3 linked regions of the Homo sapiens genome follow. Changing the gene in region 1 together with any one later gene gives a genetic interaction. Each region holds a gene or a part of one and is shown in the gene's direction. Other genes may lie near its edges.

The links.
Region 2: changes in CSNK1G2 (region 1) and CDC25A together harm fitness more than expected from each alone (negative genetic interaction), as found in Homo sapiens cells (one large-scale study listed by BioGRID).
Region 3: changes in CSNK1G2 (region 1) and TPSAB1 together harm fitness more than expected from each alone (negative genetic interaction), as found in Homo sapiens cells (one large-scale study listed by BioGRID).

The regions. Positions count from the first base shown.
Region 1 is NC_000019.10:1,964,496-1,969,631, forward strand, and holds part of CSNK1G2 (casein kinase I), read left to right. Parts: intron 1-4,295; exon of another isoform or gene 4,296-4,410; intron 4,411-5,012; 5' UTR 5,013-5,136. UniProt on the Homo sapiens protein: Serine/threonine-protein kinase. Casein kinases are operationally defined by their preferential utilization of acidic proteins such as caseins as substrates. It can phosphorylate a large number of proteins. Participates in Wnt signaling.
Region 2 is NC_000003.12:48,160,161-48,164,935, reverse strand, and holds part of CDC25A (M-phase inducer phosphatase 1), read left to right. Parts: intron 1-498; coding exon 499-629; intron 630-4,775. UniProt on the Homo sapiens protein: Tyrosine protein phosphatase which functions as a dosage-dependent inducer of mitotic progression. Directly dephosphorylates CDK1 and stimulates its kinase activity. Also dephosphorylates CDK2 in complex with cyclin-E, in vitro.
Region 3 is NC_000016.10:1,238,986-1,243,811, forward strand, and holds TPSAB1 (tryptase alpha/beta-1 precursor), read left to right. Parts: upstream 1-1,719; 5' UTR 1,720-1,743; intron 1,744-1,953; coding exon 1,954-2,014; intron 2,015-2,167; coding exon 2,168-2,339; intron 2,340-2,448; coding exon 2,449-2,714; intron 2,715-2,841; coding exon 2,842-3,005; intron 3,006-3,090; coding exon 3,091-3,255; 3' UTR 3,256-3,569; downstream 3,570-4,826. UniProt on the Homo sapiens protein: Tryptase is the major neutral protease present in mast cells and is secreted upon the coupled activation-degranulation response of this cell type. May play a role in innate immunity.

The DNA.
Region 1 (5,136 bases):
CCACCCTCTTCACCCTCTTGTTAGGGGCTAACGCAGCTGGTGACTTGAAGGTGATGCCAGGGCTTTTTACCATTCCACAAATCCTAGGGCCCACGAGAATTATGCTAAATCTACTCTGTGCTCTATAAATAGAACAACAGAGCCTGGGTGACAGCACATCTGTTTAACACCTGGCTTATGGAATATTTGAAGCCCACTTTTGAGACCTATTGTTCAGAAAAAAGTTTTTGTTTTTTTGTTTTTTTTTTTGAGACTGATTCTCGCTCGTCACCCAGGCTGGAGTGCAGTGGTGCCATCTCGGTTCACTGCAAGCTCCCCCTCCCGGGTTCACCCCATTCTCCTGCCTCAGCTTCCCGAGTAGCTGGGACTACAGGAGCCCACGACCATGCCCAGCTAATGTTTTTGTAATTTTAGTAGAAACGGGGTTTCAGCGTATTAGCCAGGATGGTCTCGATCTCCTGACTTCATGATCCGCCTGCCTCGGCCTCCCAAACTGCTGGGATTACAGGTGTGAGCCACCGCGCCTGGCCAAAAAGATTTCTTTCAAAATATGACTGCTCACTGACAACGCACCTGGTCACCCAAGATCCCTAGTGGAGACGTACACGATCAGTTTCCGGCCGGGCGCGGTGGCTCACACCTGTGATCCCAGCACTTCGGGAGGCCAAGGCGGGCAGATCACGAGGTCAGGAGATCGAGACCACAGTGAAACCGCGTCTCTACTAAAAATACAAAAAATTAACCGGCCGTGGTGGCGGGCGCCTTTAGTCCCAGCTACTCAGGAGGCTGAGGCAGGAGAATGGCATGAACCCAGGAGGCGGAGGTTGCAGTGAGCCGAGATTGTGCCACTGCACTCCAGCCTGGGCGACAGAGCGAGACTCCGTTTCCAAAAAAAAAAAAAAGATCATTGTTTCCATCCCTGCTAGCACAACATCCAGCCTGTAGCCTGTGGATCAATGAATGAATGAATGACTCGGAAATCAAGATGACTCCTTGACATGTCATTCATTCATTTATTTATGCATGACAAGGTGTCCCACTGTCACCCAGGCTGGAGTGCAGTAGCACGATCTTGGCTCACTGCATCCTCCACCTCCCGGGTTGAAGCAATTGTCTTTCCTCAGCCTCCTGAGTAGCTGGGGCTACAGGTGCGTGCCACCATGCCCAGCTAATTTTTATATTTTTTCATAGGGGGTTTCACCATGTTCCTCAGGCTGGTCTTGAACTCCTGAGCTCAAAGCAGTCTGCCCGCCTCAGCCTCCCAAAGTGCTGGGACTACAGGCCTGAGCCACTGTGCCTGGCCAAGTCTTAGTGTTTTTGAGGCACGGTCTCACTGTGTCTCCCAGGCTGCAGTGGAGAAGCAGAATCACAGCTCACTTTAGCCTCCACCTCCCAGGCTCAAGCGATCCTCTCACCTCAGTCTCCTAAGTAGCTAGGACCACAGGTGCGCACCGCCATGACTGGCTAATTTTGTTTTTATTTTTGTAAAGATAGGGTCTCCCTGTGTTGCCCAGGCTGGTCTTGAACTCCCGGCCTCAAGCAGTCTGCCTGCGTCAGCCTCCCAAAGTGTCGGGGTTACAGGCAGGAGCCACCGCAGCCGCCCATGACTCTCATTATTGAGAAATACATTTGTAAGGCTCTAGGTGCCTGTAGGTGCCGTGGAGAGCAATTCCTCTGATGGAGCTGGGGAAATTGGGTAAATTGAAACCCCCGGAAAGGCTTTGCCGTTCTAGAGGCTGTGAAGGACACGCGTGATCCATGGGAGGAGGTAACATGTCAGGATGAGCGGAAGTTTGGAAGAAGTTGGTCCCAGGCCTGAAAGATCACTGTGAGGGTTCAGGACTTCAGTGGAGGAGGGACTGTAGAGGTTTTAGAAGCAGCAAGAGAACTAGAATGAGAAGGACTTGGAGATGTGACTGCATTGTCGCTGTCTCGCGAGAAAACTTTAACACGTGAGGAGTTGCCTCTGAAGGGTGAGCAGGGGAGTTGCTTCAGTTGCGCTCTAGTCCCAGTGAAGATTCTGTGAACCTGGGGGTAATGAGGACAAAGAACTTGGAACAGCCCGGAACCTCGGTTGATGAAGCCGCGGCCGGGTTGAGAGGACCGACTGCAGTTCTGAAAGACGTTCTGCTGTGGGTAATCAATGCTATCAGACAGCATCACGCCCCACAGAGAAATCTTTCATGAAAGGAAGAGTCCATCGCTGTGGCCAACTTTTTTGTGGTCATAGTTTAAGAAGTTGCCCCAGCCTCCAGCAGCCACCGCCCCAACGAGTCAGCCGCCGTCCACATTGAGGCAAGACCCTTCTCCGGGGAGATTAGGGCCACTCCCGGTTCCCATGATCATTACCATTGCTTAGCAGTAAAGTATTTTTATTTCTTTATTATTTATTTAAGATGGGGTCTTGCTGTATCCCCCAGGCTGGAGTGCAGTGGTGCGATCATAGCTCACTGCAGCCTCCGCCTCCTGGGCTCAAACGATCCTCCCGCCTCAGTCTCCCGAGTAGCTGGGACCACAGGCTTGCACACCACGCCCCGCTTAATTAAAGTGTGTCCTTTGATTAGACACAACGCTACTGCACACTTCCTAGACCACGGTATACTGTGAACGTAACTTGTGTGTGCACTGGGAAACCAGAACATTCGAGCGGCTGTTGCCGTGCGGAACCCAAGGCCTGTGATCCCCACAGGGTGTTTCTGGCACCGGAACGCAGGGGCCACATCCAGGGGGGCAGTGCTTGTGACGCCGGTGCCTTCGTTTCTGATGTGGCTTACTCAGCTGGGAGTTCCTGTCCTAACATTTTCGGCGATGGCTGTGCACCCACGGCCCCTCTTCACCCGCGGCCCCTACGTCCTGCCGGTTGGCAGGAAACCTCTTCCCCTGCACATCTGGGGCACAGCAGCAAACTGTGGTCCCCCTTCTTCAGTGAGGGTGGGGCTTCTGTCTGTCTGGAGCCCTAGAATGGGGCCAGGGGTGGCTGGGGCCTGGGTCAGGGAGGACCCGGCAGGATCTGTGCAGACAGGCAGGTGGCTGCGGTGGCTCCCGGTGCAGGGTTCTTGGCCTCCTGGGCGGGTACCTGGCTTGAGGGCGACGAGGTGACAGCCGCGTCCCTGGGGTTGCACCACCCGAGCGTCCAGTTAACACCACAGCTGCCACCCTTCAGTTCTGCAGGTGGGGCTCCTCCCTCCTCCCCAGGCTGCCCCCACCACCCTTCAGTTCTGCAGGTGGGGCTCCTCCTTCCTCCCTCCTCCCCAGGCTGCCCCCGACCACCCTTCAGTTCTGCAGGTGGGGCTCCTCCTTCCTCCCTCCTCCCCAGGCTGCCCCCGACCACCCTTCAGTTCTGCAGGTGGGGCTCCTCCCTCCTCCCTTCTCCCCAGGCTGCCCCCGACCACCCTTCAGTTCTGCAGGTGGGGCTCCTCCCTCCTCCCTTCTCCCCAGGCTGCCCCCGACCACCCTTCAGTTCTGCAGGTGGGGCTCCTCCCTCCTCCCCAGGCTGCCCCCGACCACCCTTCAGTTCTGCAGGTGGGGGCTCCTCCCTCCTCCCCAGGCTGCCCCCACCACCCTTCAGTTCTGCAGGTGGGGCTCCTCCCTCCTCCCTCCTCCCCAGGCTGCCCCCGACCACCCTTCAGTTCTGCAGGTGGGGCTCCTCCCCAGGCTGTCCCTGACCACCCTTCAGTTCTGCAGGTGGGGCTCCTCCCTCCTCCCTCCTCCCCAGGCTGCCCCAGACCACCCTTCAGTTCTGCAGGTGGGGCTCCTCCCTCCTCCCCAGGCTGCCCCCGACCACCCTTCAGTTCTGCAGGTGGGGGCTCCTCCCTCCTCCCCAGGCTGCCCCTGACCACCCTTCAGTTCTGCAGGTGGGGCTCCTCCCTCCTCCCTCCTCCCCAGGCTGTCCCGAGGCTCCTTGCTGGGGACCGTCCTGCCTCCCGTCGGGGCCTGCGCTGAGACTGGGCTCCATGCCAGCCGGGGCTGGCTGGCCCCCTCGCTCCAGAGAGCGACCTGCACAGAGTCCCCTCAGCCATGAGCCCCTGTCCAGACACGGCGTTTCTCTGTGGGTGGCAACAGGCTCTGGGGCCCTCAGCTCTGGGCTCGGGAGCATTTAAGGTGGTGCAGACTCAGCGAGGGGCTGTGGGCTGGGGTCCCACCATCCCGGGAGCAGGGACTGCGTGTTCCTTCTCAGGACCAGAGGCTTCTGTCTTTTCCCCTGGGGTAGAAGTTTGCTGCCTGCCCCGTGCCCAGCCTTGCTTAGGTGGCTGTTGGCTCCGCTGGTCCCTCAAGCCCCGCCATTCCCTCCTCAGCTCCGCTCTGCACCGAAGGGGATGGGTCCGACCCAGCCTGGCATCATCACAGCCTCGAGTGGCGTCCAGCCTGCCCCGCTCCACCAGTGGCTGCTGGAGAAGAACCCGAGCCTGGGTCAGGCCCTGGGGGCTCCTGCATCAGTGCCCGGCTCTCCGGGGCCTCCTGCCCTCCGGCCCACTCTCCCCGCTCTCAGCATCAACCAGTCGCCATGGGCAGGGGCAGCTCGGTGGCTCCTGTGTCCCTGCCTCGGGCCTGCCTGCTGTCATCTGCCTCCCTCCCTCTTTCCCAGAGCGGCCCTGGGCCTGGATACGGGGACTGTTGTGTGGCCCCTCTGTGTCTGGGGGTGCGACTGCTCCCCTGGCTTCAGGATCCTCAGGGCTTCTACCCGGGATTGGCAGTCATGCTCTCCTGGCAGTACACTCTCCCACCTGTGCCACCCACCCACCCACCCACCCATCCCGCTTTACAGAAAGCCCCCTGAGCCCTACCCTGTTCGTCCCCAGGCAGCCACGCCGAGATCTCTGGCCTCTGATGTCATGTGATGTGTGCTTCCCAGCTGGGTTCCGGGCAGGGACGGTGCTCATCATGCCCCGGCCTTCAGAGCTCCTTCCAGCCCAGCAGTCTCCTGGCTGTGTCCTCTGTGGCCTCCGCCCCGTGTCCTCAGTGGCCCCGCGGGGGCCTTGCCGGTGCTCACCTGTGCCTCTGTTTCTCTGCAGCTGTGAGCCGTGAGCTTTGAGGCGGTGGGATGTGTCAGCAGAATGTCTCCTGCCCCCGAGAGCGACCCCGAGGCCACTGAGAAGAGCAGCGCGGCCTGGCCGGCCCGAACGCCTGCGTCTCAGT
Region 2 (4,775 bases), on another chromosome or scaffold:
GGGTTTCACCATGTTGCCCGGGCTGGTCTCAAACTCCTGAGCTCAGGCAAACCGCCCGCCTCAGCCTCCCAAAGTGCTAGGATTACAGGCATGAGCCACGGCGCCTGGCCTGCCATTTTAATGTTTTACCCGATTAATAGTGTTTAAATATAGTAAGGAGGTACTTTAAATACGATGTTACTGTTTGCCATTGTCTTGTGGCTTTTGAAAATCCCCAAATTTATAAAACTACCTATAAAGTGTACCATTGTCATATTTGAATTGCCCATTTCCAGTCCCCATGTGCATTACTGTATGATGAACGTGTACGGACCCACAAAGCTCCATTGAGATACAGGTGCCAAATGGTCTACTGGGCTATTCAGCTAGAAGAACTGCAAAAATCACAAACTGGTCTTGTGGACTTAAAGATCACTCTTGATGAATCATTACATCTTGCTGAATCATTACTTCATGTGTGAAACGTGCAGGTTCCAAGGGTCTCTGTTGTCTTCACAGGGTGCAGTGAACTTGCACATGGAAGAAGAGGTTGAAGACTTCTTATTGAAGAAGCCCATTGTACCTACTGATGGCAAGCGTGTCATTGTTGTGTTTCACTGCGAGTTTTCTTCTGAGAGAGGTCCCCGCATGTGAGTGCTGCACGGAACTGGGTTCTGGGGCACAGGCTCCATGATGCTTTTGTGGGACATGGTGGTTTGTGGCTTGCACTTGGAGCATATTTTAGCATATCAAGCAACCTCTGGCACATAACAAGCCATTTTCATATGTAATTTTATCCTGAGGTGAACTTTGGCTCTTCCAGTCTCCCCGACTGTCCTTAGTCTGATCTGTGGGGCTACTGTTCTCATGTGACCTCCTTCAAGTACAAAGTGACCGTTCCTTATGCAAATGCCAGAAAAGTGTGAAGTTCTCATTCTGTAAAACCTCATATGATATGATGCTTTGAAACACTTGATATTATTACCAATTTCAGGGTGAAAAGAAAAAAGGGGGCCAAAGAGCTGCCCATCAGTCATCTGTGTCCATTCTAAAAGGATTGCAAGCCTGCTGTTTGTCAGGCACTGACAATAAAAATGTAACTACAGTAAAACACAGTACAGTAAAAATACCACAGCGAGCAGGACCAACAAGGACCCTACTGCAGCAGAGATCCAAGTGGGGATCCGTATAAATGCTAGGAGGACAGGCAGAGAGGTAGGACAGAGAGTGCAGCTTAACTAGGATGGTCCAAGGGAGACTTCTGCAGGACCACGTTCTTATGCCACCTTTTTATTTTGAACCAATTTATTTTAAAAAACATTTTTAAATTAAAAAATTTCAATTTTTTTTTTTTGACGGAGTTTTGCTCTTGTTGCCCAGGCTGGAGTGCAGTGGCACAATCTCTTCTCACTGCAACCTCTGCCTCCCAGGTTCAAGCAGTTCTCCTGCCTCAGCCTCCCAAGTAGCTGGGATTACAGGCATGCGCCATCACGCCCGGCTAATTTTGTATTTTTAGTAGAGGCAGGGTTTCTACATGTTGGTCAGGCTGGTCTTGAACTCCCGACCTTAGGTGATCCGCCTGCCTCAGCCTCCCAAAGTAGTGGGATTACAGGCGTGAGCCACTGCACCTGGCTTTTTCTTTCTTTCTTTCTTTCTTTTTTTTTTTTTTTTTTGAGGCGGAGGCACACTGTTTTCACCCAGACTGGAATGCAGTGGCATGATCTCGGCTCACTGCAACCTCCACCTCCTGGGTTCAAGCGATTCTCCTGCCTCAGCCTCCTGAGTAGCTGGGATAACAGGCGTGCACCACCACACCCGGCTAATTTTTGTATTTGTAGTAGAGATGGGGGTTTCACCATGTTGGCCGGGCTGGTCTTGAACTCCTGACCTCAGGTGATCCACCCGCCTTGACCTCCCAAAGTGCTGGGATTACAGGTGTGAGCCACCACGCCCAGCAGAAATTTCAAATTTTGAGATGGGGTCTTAATATATTGGCCAGGTTGGTCTCAAACTCCTGGCCTCAAGCAATCCTCTCTCCTTGGCCTCCAAAGTGCTAGGATTGCAGGCATGAGCCACTGTGCCCACCCCTTTGAACCTTTTTTTTTTTTTGAGACGGAGTCTCGCTCTGTCACCCAGGCTGGAGTGCAGTGGCACAATCTCGACTTACTGCAAGCTCCGCCTCCTGGGTTCATGCCATTCTCCTGCCTCAGCCTCCCGAGTAGCTGGGACTACAGGTGCCCACCATCACGCCTGGCTAATTTTTTTGTATTTTTAGTAGAGACAGGGTTTCACCATTTTAGCCAGGATGGTCTCCATCTCCTGACCTTGCGATCTGCCCGTCTCGGCCTCCCAAAGTGCTTGGATTACAGGCGTGAGCCACTGCGCCTGACCTGAACCATTTTAAAGCTCAAGAAGAGGTGAGGTTATGGCTGGGCACAGTGGCACCTGTAATCCCAACACTTTGGGAGGCCGAGGCAGGAGGATCACTTGCTCGGGAGTTTCAGACCAGACCAACCTGGGTAACACAGTGGGACCACACCTCTACAAAAAATAGGAGGTGGGAGGATCGTTTGAGCCCAGCAGGTCGAGGCTGTGGTGAGCCATGATCATGCCACTGTACTCCAGCCTAGGTGACAGAGTGAGATTCTGTCTCTCTCTCACACACACACACACACACACACACACACACAAAGGTTATACTTGCACACACTTCACCTGATTTTATTAATTTTTAACATTTTGTCACATTTGTATGTACATGCTCTACACACAGGCAACTACAGTACAACTTGACACTTTTGACTGTCATCTCATAAGTCCTTCAAACATCTGTCTCCAAAGGATGCTCATTCATGAATGGAATTATTCACTCAGCAGTTTTTTTGTTTGTTTGTTTGAGATGTAGTCTTGCTCTGCCACCCAGACTGGAGTGCAGTGGTGCGATCTCGGATCACTGCAACCTCCACCTCCCGGGTTCAAGCAATTCTCCTGCCTCAGGCTCCCAAGTAGCTGGGACTACGGGTGCATGCCACCATGCCAAGCTAATGTTTGTATTTTTAGTAGAGACGGGGTTTTGCTACATTGGCCAGGCTGGTCTCGAACTCCTGACCTCAAGTGATCTACCCGCCTCAGCCTCCCAAAGTGCTGGGATTATAGGCCTGAAACAAACTAATCTGGACACACATACACACACATGTAAATTGTTTTTAAACCCACAAAAGATGCTGCTCTCTTTTTTTTTTATTTTTGAGTCAGGGTCAGTCTCTGTTGTCCAGGCTGGAGTACAGTGGCAGGAGCACAGCTCACTGTAGCCTCTGCCTCCCAGGCTCAAGTGATTCTCCCACCTCAGCCTCCCAGGAAGCTAGGACCACAAACATGCATCACCATGCCTGGCTAATTTTTGTATTTTTTATAGAGACAGGGTCTCACTGTGTTGCCCAGGCTGGTCTCAAACTCCTGGGCTCAGGCAATCCTGGCCTCCCAAAGTGCTTGGATTACAGGTGTGAGCCGCCATGCCCAGCCCAAAAGATGCTATTCTCTTAATCTCTCATTTCCCCATCTTCCTCTTTAACACCTCTAATATAAAGGACATTATTATACCATATTGAAACTTCACCTAGATATACAGAAAACGCCCCATCTCTGTATTCTGTATTTGCAAGCTGCATGTTTATATCACCATCTACAGATACCCCTTACACTTCGTTCCCCACTTGAGTTTCGCCATCACTGGCTTTCTGTTGTTCCACTGGGGAAAGATTTGGGATTCACAGGTGAACTCTTTTTTTTTTTTTTTTTTTTTTTTGAGTTGGAATCTCGCCCTTTCGCCCAGGCTGGAATGCAGTGGCACAATCTCGGCTCACTGCAGCCTCCTCCTCCCGGGTTCAAGCATTTCTCTGCCTCAGCCTCCCAAGTAGCTGGGATTACAGGCACCTGCCACCACGCCCAGCTAATTTTTTGTAGTTTTAGTAGACACAGGGTTTCACTATCTTGGCCAGGCTGGTCTCGAACTCCTGACCTCGTGATCCACCGCCTCAGCCTCCCAAAGTGCTGGAATTACAGGTGTGAGCCACCGCGCCCAGCCAAACTCCTTTTAACCACAGGCAAATGGTTTAAGCTACGTGCTGCAGAGGAAGCTGCTGCCCATCCCTCATGAGCAGCTAACAAAGGCCCCAAACCACTGAGCTTCAAGAGAAAATCAGCAGATACTCTTGGCTCTTGTGTACCAGATACCTTTCTAGATACTGAGGGAGAAGAGCAGTGAACAAAACAGACCAAAAAATCTCTGCCTTCATGGAACTTACATTTCGGAGTGGACAGGAGATCGAGACCAGCCTGGCCAACATGGTGAAATCCCGTCTCTACTAAAAATACAAAAATTAGCCAGGCGTGGTGGCGGACACCTGTAATCCCAGCTACTTTGGAGGCTGAGGCAGGAGCATCCCTTGAACCCAGGAGGCAGAGGTTGCAGTGAGCCGAGATCGCGCCAGTGCACTCCAGCCTGGGCGACAGAGTGAGACTCCATCTCAAAAAAAAAAAAAAAAAGGTGACTGGGTGCGGTGGCTAACTCCTGTAATCCCAACACTTTGGGAGGCCAAGGCAGGTGGATCACAAGGTCAAGAGGTCGAGACCATCCTGGCCAACATGGTGAAGCCCCATCTCTACTAAACATACAAAAATCAGCTGGGCGGTGGCACGCGCCTGTAGTCCCAGCTATTTGGGAGGCTGAGGCAGGAGAATTGCTTGAACCCGGGAGACGGAGATTGCAGTGAGCCTGAGGTCACGCCCTTGCACTC
Region 3 (4,826 bases), on another chromosome or scaffold:
GATGCGGGGCTTCCTGAGAGGCGCCGGGGCAGGGCCGCACAGGTCCATCCACCTCCCCTGGGACCCCAGCCCTGCAGCAGCCCCAGGGGAGCGGCCGGGGATCGGGGCGGGGTGCCCAGGACGCGCCCTGATTGGCCCAGTGTTAGCCAATCAAAGCTCTCGCATCCCCATGGTGCTGATTGGTCCGCCTCCCAGGCCTGACCCAATCGGAGCATTCCTAGGAGGAGCGGCCCCAGAGCCCCTGACTCGGGGGTCCCAGAGCCCTCTGCACACCACAGCCCCGGTGTCCCCGTGTGTCCCTGGGTTCTCCCAGCCCTGGTGTCCCCTGAGTCTCTTCTTCACCGTCAGCCCTGGTGTCTCCCGTGTCCCTGCCACACCCTCATCCCTGGTGTCCCCCGTCACCCCATCCCCTCACCTCCTGGGCTCCTGAAGGTCCCATCTTGTGGGCCTCATTCATGGAACCAGGACGGGGCAGGTGGAGGCCTCTGGGGAGTTTGTCCAGAGAATGGAGGAGAAGCAGGGTCATGAGCAGGAGCGGTCTGGGCCACCCCTGCCTGTCCCCCGGGGGGTGCAGCCCGGAAGGAGTCCAGATGGATATGGCCCCGCAGTGCAGAGTCAGCCCCAAACCAGGCTGGTCCCAGGCAGGGTGGGGGCAGGAGGAGCCCCGGAGTGGCCCTGTGTTGGGGGTCGGGGGGCAGGCAGGGGGTCCTGGGGCTCAGAAGCGGAGGAGGTGGGCTGGAGGCCCCAGTGACCAACAGGCCCAGGGGAGTCGGGAGGTGGGGTGGACGGACCTGCAGGGACAGTGTCAGCGCTGAATGGGATGGAGAGCACAGGGAGCTGGGGCCGGGGATGAGACCATGGGGAGCTGGGGCTGGGGCTGGGACTAGTCCATGGGGAGCTGGGGCTGAAGTTGGGGGTGAGTCCATGGGGAGCTGGGCTGGGCCTCCTGGGGTTGCACCTGCACTCCTCTCTGCTCTTCCCTCTGCGTATGAAGCTCAGATCCCATGATAAGGAGGCACCTGCAGACCAGGGGACCTGCACGGACAGCCCCAGAGGTGGACATTGAGGACTCGTAGGAGGACTTGGGTCTCATACGGCGGGTGGGGAGCAGGGCCCCTTCCTGGCTGAGGACACTTGGTGCTGTCCCCTCTCAAGGCTGTTTCCCCATCTGACAAAGGGGTCTCACGTGAGCCCCCAACCAAGTGAGTCGAGGAGGGCTGGCCCCACCCCCGTGGATTCGGAGTCCGTAGGAGGGGTGTCACCCGTCATGTCCCCACCCCGTGGGCACCTTCCCGTCTCTTGGAGCGTGGCCCATGGACATGAGTTCCTCACCCGTGTCCCTCTTGGGGAAACAGGTTTCAGGAGCGACGGGTCTTGTAGCCTGGGGCAGCCAGGCCACCTGGGTGCAGCAATGCCTGAAGGCCTCCTGGCACCGAGACAGGGGCAGGAGCAGATCCCACCAGCGGGAAGGTGGTGGGTTCCAGTGCTGGGATCCACCAGCTGACAGGTGGAGCTGCCAGTCTCCAGTGCTCAGCCCTCAGCGGGGCCTGCCTGGCAGCCCCACACACAGAGGGCATCGGGGTGGCGGGGGCACGTGTTACACGGGGGCCCTGGGTCTGAGTCATCCACTTCCTCCGAGTCTGGATGGGAGGACCCAGCGCCCCTCCTCCGCCCCCTCCTGATCTGGAAGGATAAATGGGGAGGGGAGAGCCCACTGGGTAGAAGGAACAGGGAGCGGCCAGGGTAAGTCCCCACTCTCAGAGACCCTGACATCAGCGTCACCTGGAGCAGAGTGGCCCAGCCTCAGACTCAGAGCACCAAGACCCAGGCCCGCAGGCCTGGACCCACCCCGGTCCCCCCGTCCCAGCTCCATTCTTCACCCCACAATCTGTAGCCCCCAGCCCTGCCCTGTGAGGCCCGGCCAGGCCCACGATGCTCCTCCTTGCTCCCCAGATGCTGAATCTGCTGCTGCTGGCGCTGCCCGTCCTGGCGAGCCGCGCCTACGCGGCCCCTGGTGAGTCCCAGCCGGGGTCCACCCTGCCCCTCACCACATTCCACAGGTCAGGGCCTGGGTGGGTTCTGGGGAGGTCGGGCTGGCCCCCACACAGGGAAGGGCTGGGCCCAGGCCTGGGGCTGCTTCCTGGTCCTGACCTGGCACCTGCCCCAGCCCCAGGCCAGGCCCTGCAGCGAGTGGGCATCGTCGGGGGTCAGGAGGCCCCCAGGAGCAAGTGGCCCTGGCAGGTGAGCCTGAGAGTCCACGGCCCATACTGGATGCACTTCTGCGGGGGCTCCCTCATCCACCCCCAGTGGGTGCTGACCGCAGCGCACTGCGTGGGACCGTGAGTCTCCCGGGGCCTGGAGGGGTGGGGAAGGGCTGGATGTGAGCCCTGGCTCCCGGGTGCTCCTGGGGGCTGCCCAGGGCCCTGAGTGGGATCCTCCGCTGCCCAGGGACGTCAAGGATCTGGCCGCCCTCAGGGTGCAACTGCGGGAGCAGCACCTCTACTACCAGGACCAGCTGCTGCCGGTCAGCAGGATCATCGTGCACCCACAGTTCTACACCGCCCAGATCGGAGCGGACATCGCCCTGCTGGAGCTGGAGGAGCCGGTGAACGTCTCCAGCCACGTCCACACGGTCACCCTGCCCCCTGCCTCAGAGACCTTCCCCCCGGGGATGCCGTGCTGGGTCACTGGCTGGGGCGATGTGGACAATGATGGTGGGTCTGGGGACAGTGGAGGTGGGGCCAGGGTCTTAGCCACAGCCCAGCCCCTGGGCTCCCTCTGGGCTCCAGGTGGGGGTTGCCCGGCCCCCTCCTGAGGCTGCACCCTCTTCCCCACCTGCAGAGCGCCTCCCACCGCCATTTCCTCTGAAGCAGGTGAAGGTCCCCATAATGGAAAACCACATTTGTGACGCAAAATACCACCTTGGCGCCTACACGGGAGACGACGTCCGCATCGTCCGTGACGACATGCTGTGTGCCGGGAACACCCGGAGGGACTCATGCCAGGTGGGCCCCGCCTGTCCCCCGCCCCCCGCCCCCCAACCCCCACTCCCAGGCCTGTTCGGCGAGCGCTGACCTCTGACCTTCCCAGGGCGACTCCGGAGGGCCCCTGGTGTGCAAGGTGAATGGCACCTGGCTGCAGGCGGGCGTGGTCAGCTGGGGCGAGGGCTGTGCCCAGCCCAACCGGCCTGGCATCTACACCCGTGTCACCTACTACTTGGACTGGATCCACCACTATGTCCCCAAAAAGCCGTGAGTCAGGCCTGGGTTGGCCACCTGGGTCACTGGAGGACCAACCCCTGCTGTCCAAAACACCACTGCTTCCTACCCAGGTGGCGACTGCCCCCCACACCTTCCCTGCCCCGTCCTGAGTGCCCCTTCCTGTCCTAAGCCCCCTGCTCTCTTCTGAGCCCCTTCCCCTGTCCTGAGGACCCTTCCCTATCCTGAGCCCCCTTCCCTGTCCTAAGCCTGACGCCTGCACCGGGCCCTCCAGCCCTCCCCTGCCCAGATAGCTGGTGGTGGGCGCTAATCCTCCTGAGTGCTGGACCTCATTAAAGTGCATGGAAATCACTGGTGTGCATCGCTGTGTTTCTGGTTGTGGATGTCACTGGGAGAGAAGGGGTCCAGGTGTGCTGAGGACACCTGCCACAGTGTGAGGTCCTAGCCCTCAAGGCACAGCCAGTCACCGTGGGACGGGGCCTCCTGGGCAGCCCTGGTCCCCGAGGCTGGCTTCTCCCCACACGATGCATCCAGCATTCGGGTCACACAGAGCCACTCGGGCAACTCAGTTGATTATAAAGGACAGCCAGGTCCCTGCAACCGGGTCAAGACAGAGAATGGTCGCCGGGAGCCCCAGGGCTGCCCATCATGAGCCCCTACCCCACGCTTCCCACGAGCTCTTCTCCCGGCCCCTCTGTCCACTGCTTGTGCTTTGCCTAGTTGTTTGCTTTGAGACGGGATCTCGCTGTGTCATCCAGGCTGAAGTGCAGTGGTGTGATCAGGGCTCACTGCAGCCTTAACTCCTGGGCTCAAGCGATCCTCCCATCTTGGCCTCCCATATAGCTGGGCCACAGGCGTGAGCCACCACGCCCAGTTAATTTTTGTATTTTCAGTAGAGATGGGGTTTCGCCATGTTGGCCAGTCTGGTCTCGAACTCCTGACCTCAAGTGATCCGCCCGCCTCGGCCTCCCAAAGTGCTGGGATGACAGGCGTGAGCCACCGCACCCGGCCTGAGTTTGACATTTTCAAATTCATTTTGAGGTCTTTCTCTACATCAATAGGTGAGCCCTCTGCGTCTGGCGAGTGTTGCATTTTATCCCGGGCTCTTGTTTGCATTTTTTATTTGAACATGATTACACCCAGGAATGAAATGCGGGGCTGTTCTGGTTGAAAACAACTCTCTAAAGAAACATTCACTCTTTCCTTCCAACTGTCAGATGCAGAGATGTGCATTTAGTCTCTCCAATCTCTGCAAATGACCTCTGTCCTCACAAGGGGTGGACTCGACTCCCAGCGCCCTCTCCAGCCCCACGTGACCTCTGCCTCTGCAGCCCCTGAAGGCCCATCCCTCGGCTCCTGTTCTGCAGGCCCAGCGTCTTGTCTATGAAGATGGACCTGGAACTCGGGCCCTCCTTCCTCCCTCTGGCCCATCCCACCTTCTAGGGATCACAGAGACAGCACGGGGTGACCCCCAGGGAACACTGAGCCCCTAGAAGCACTTCCACACGCCCACTGGAGGTTTTGCGGGGTGGGAGTCGGAGGGATGAGACCCCGAAGGGAAGCAAGACGGCCCCTCAGGACAGGGCTGCCGGTGTAAGGAAAGGTGGA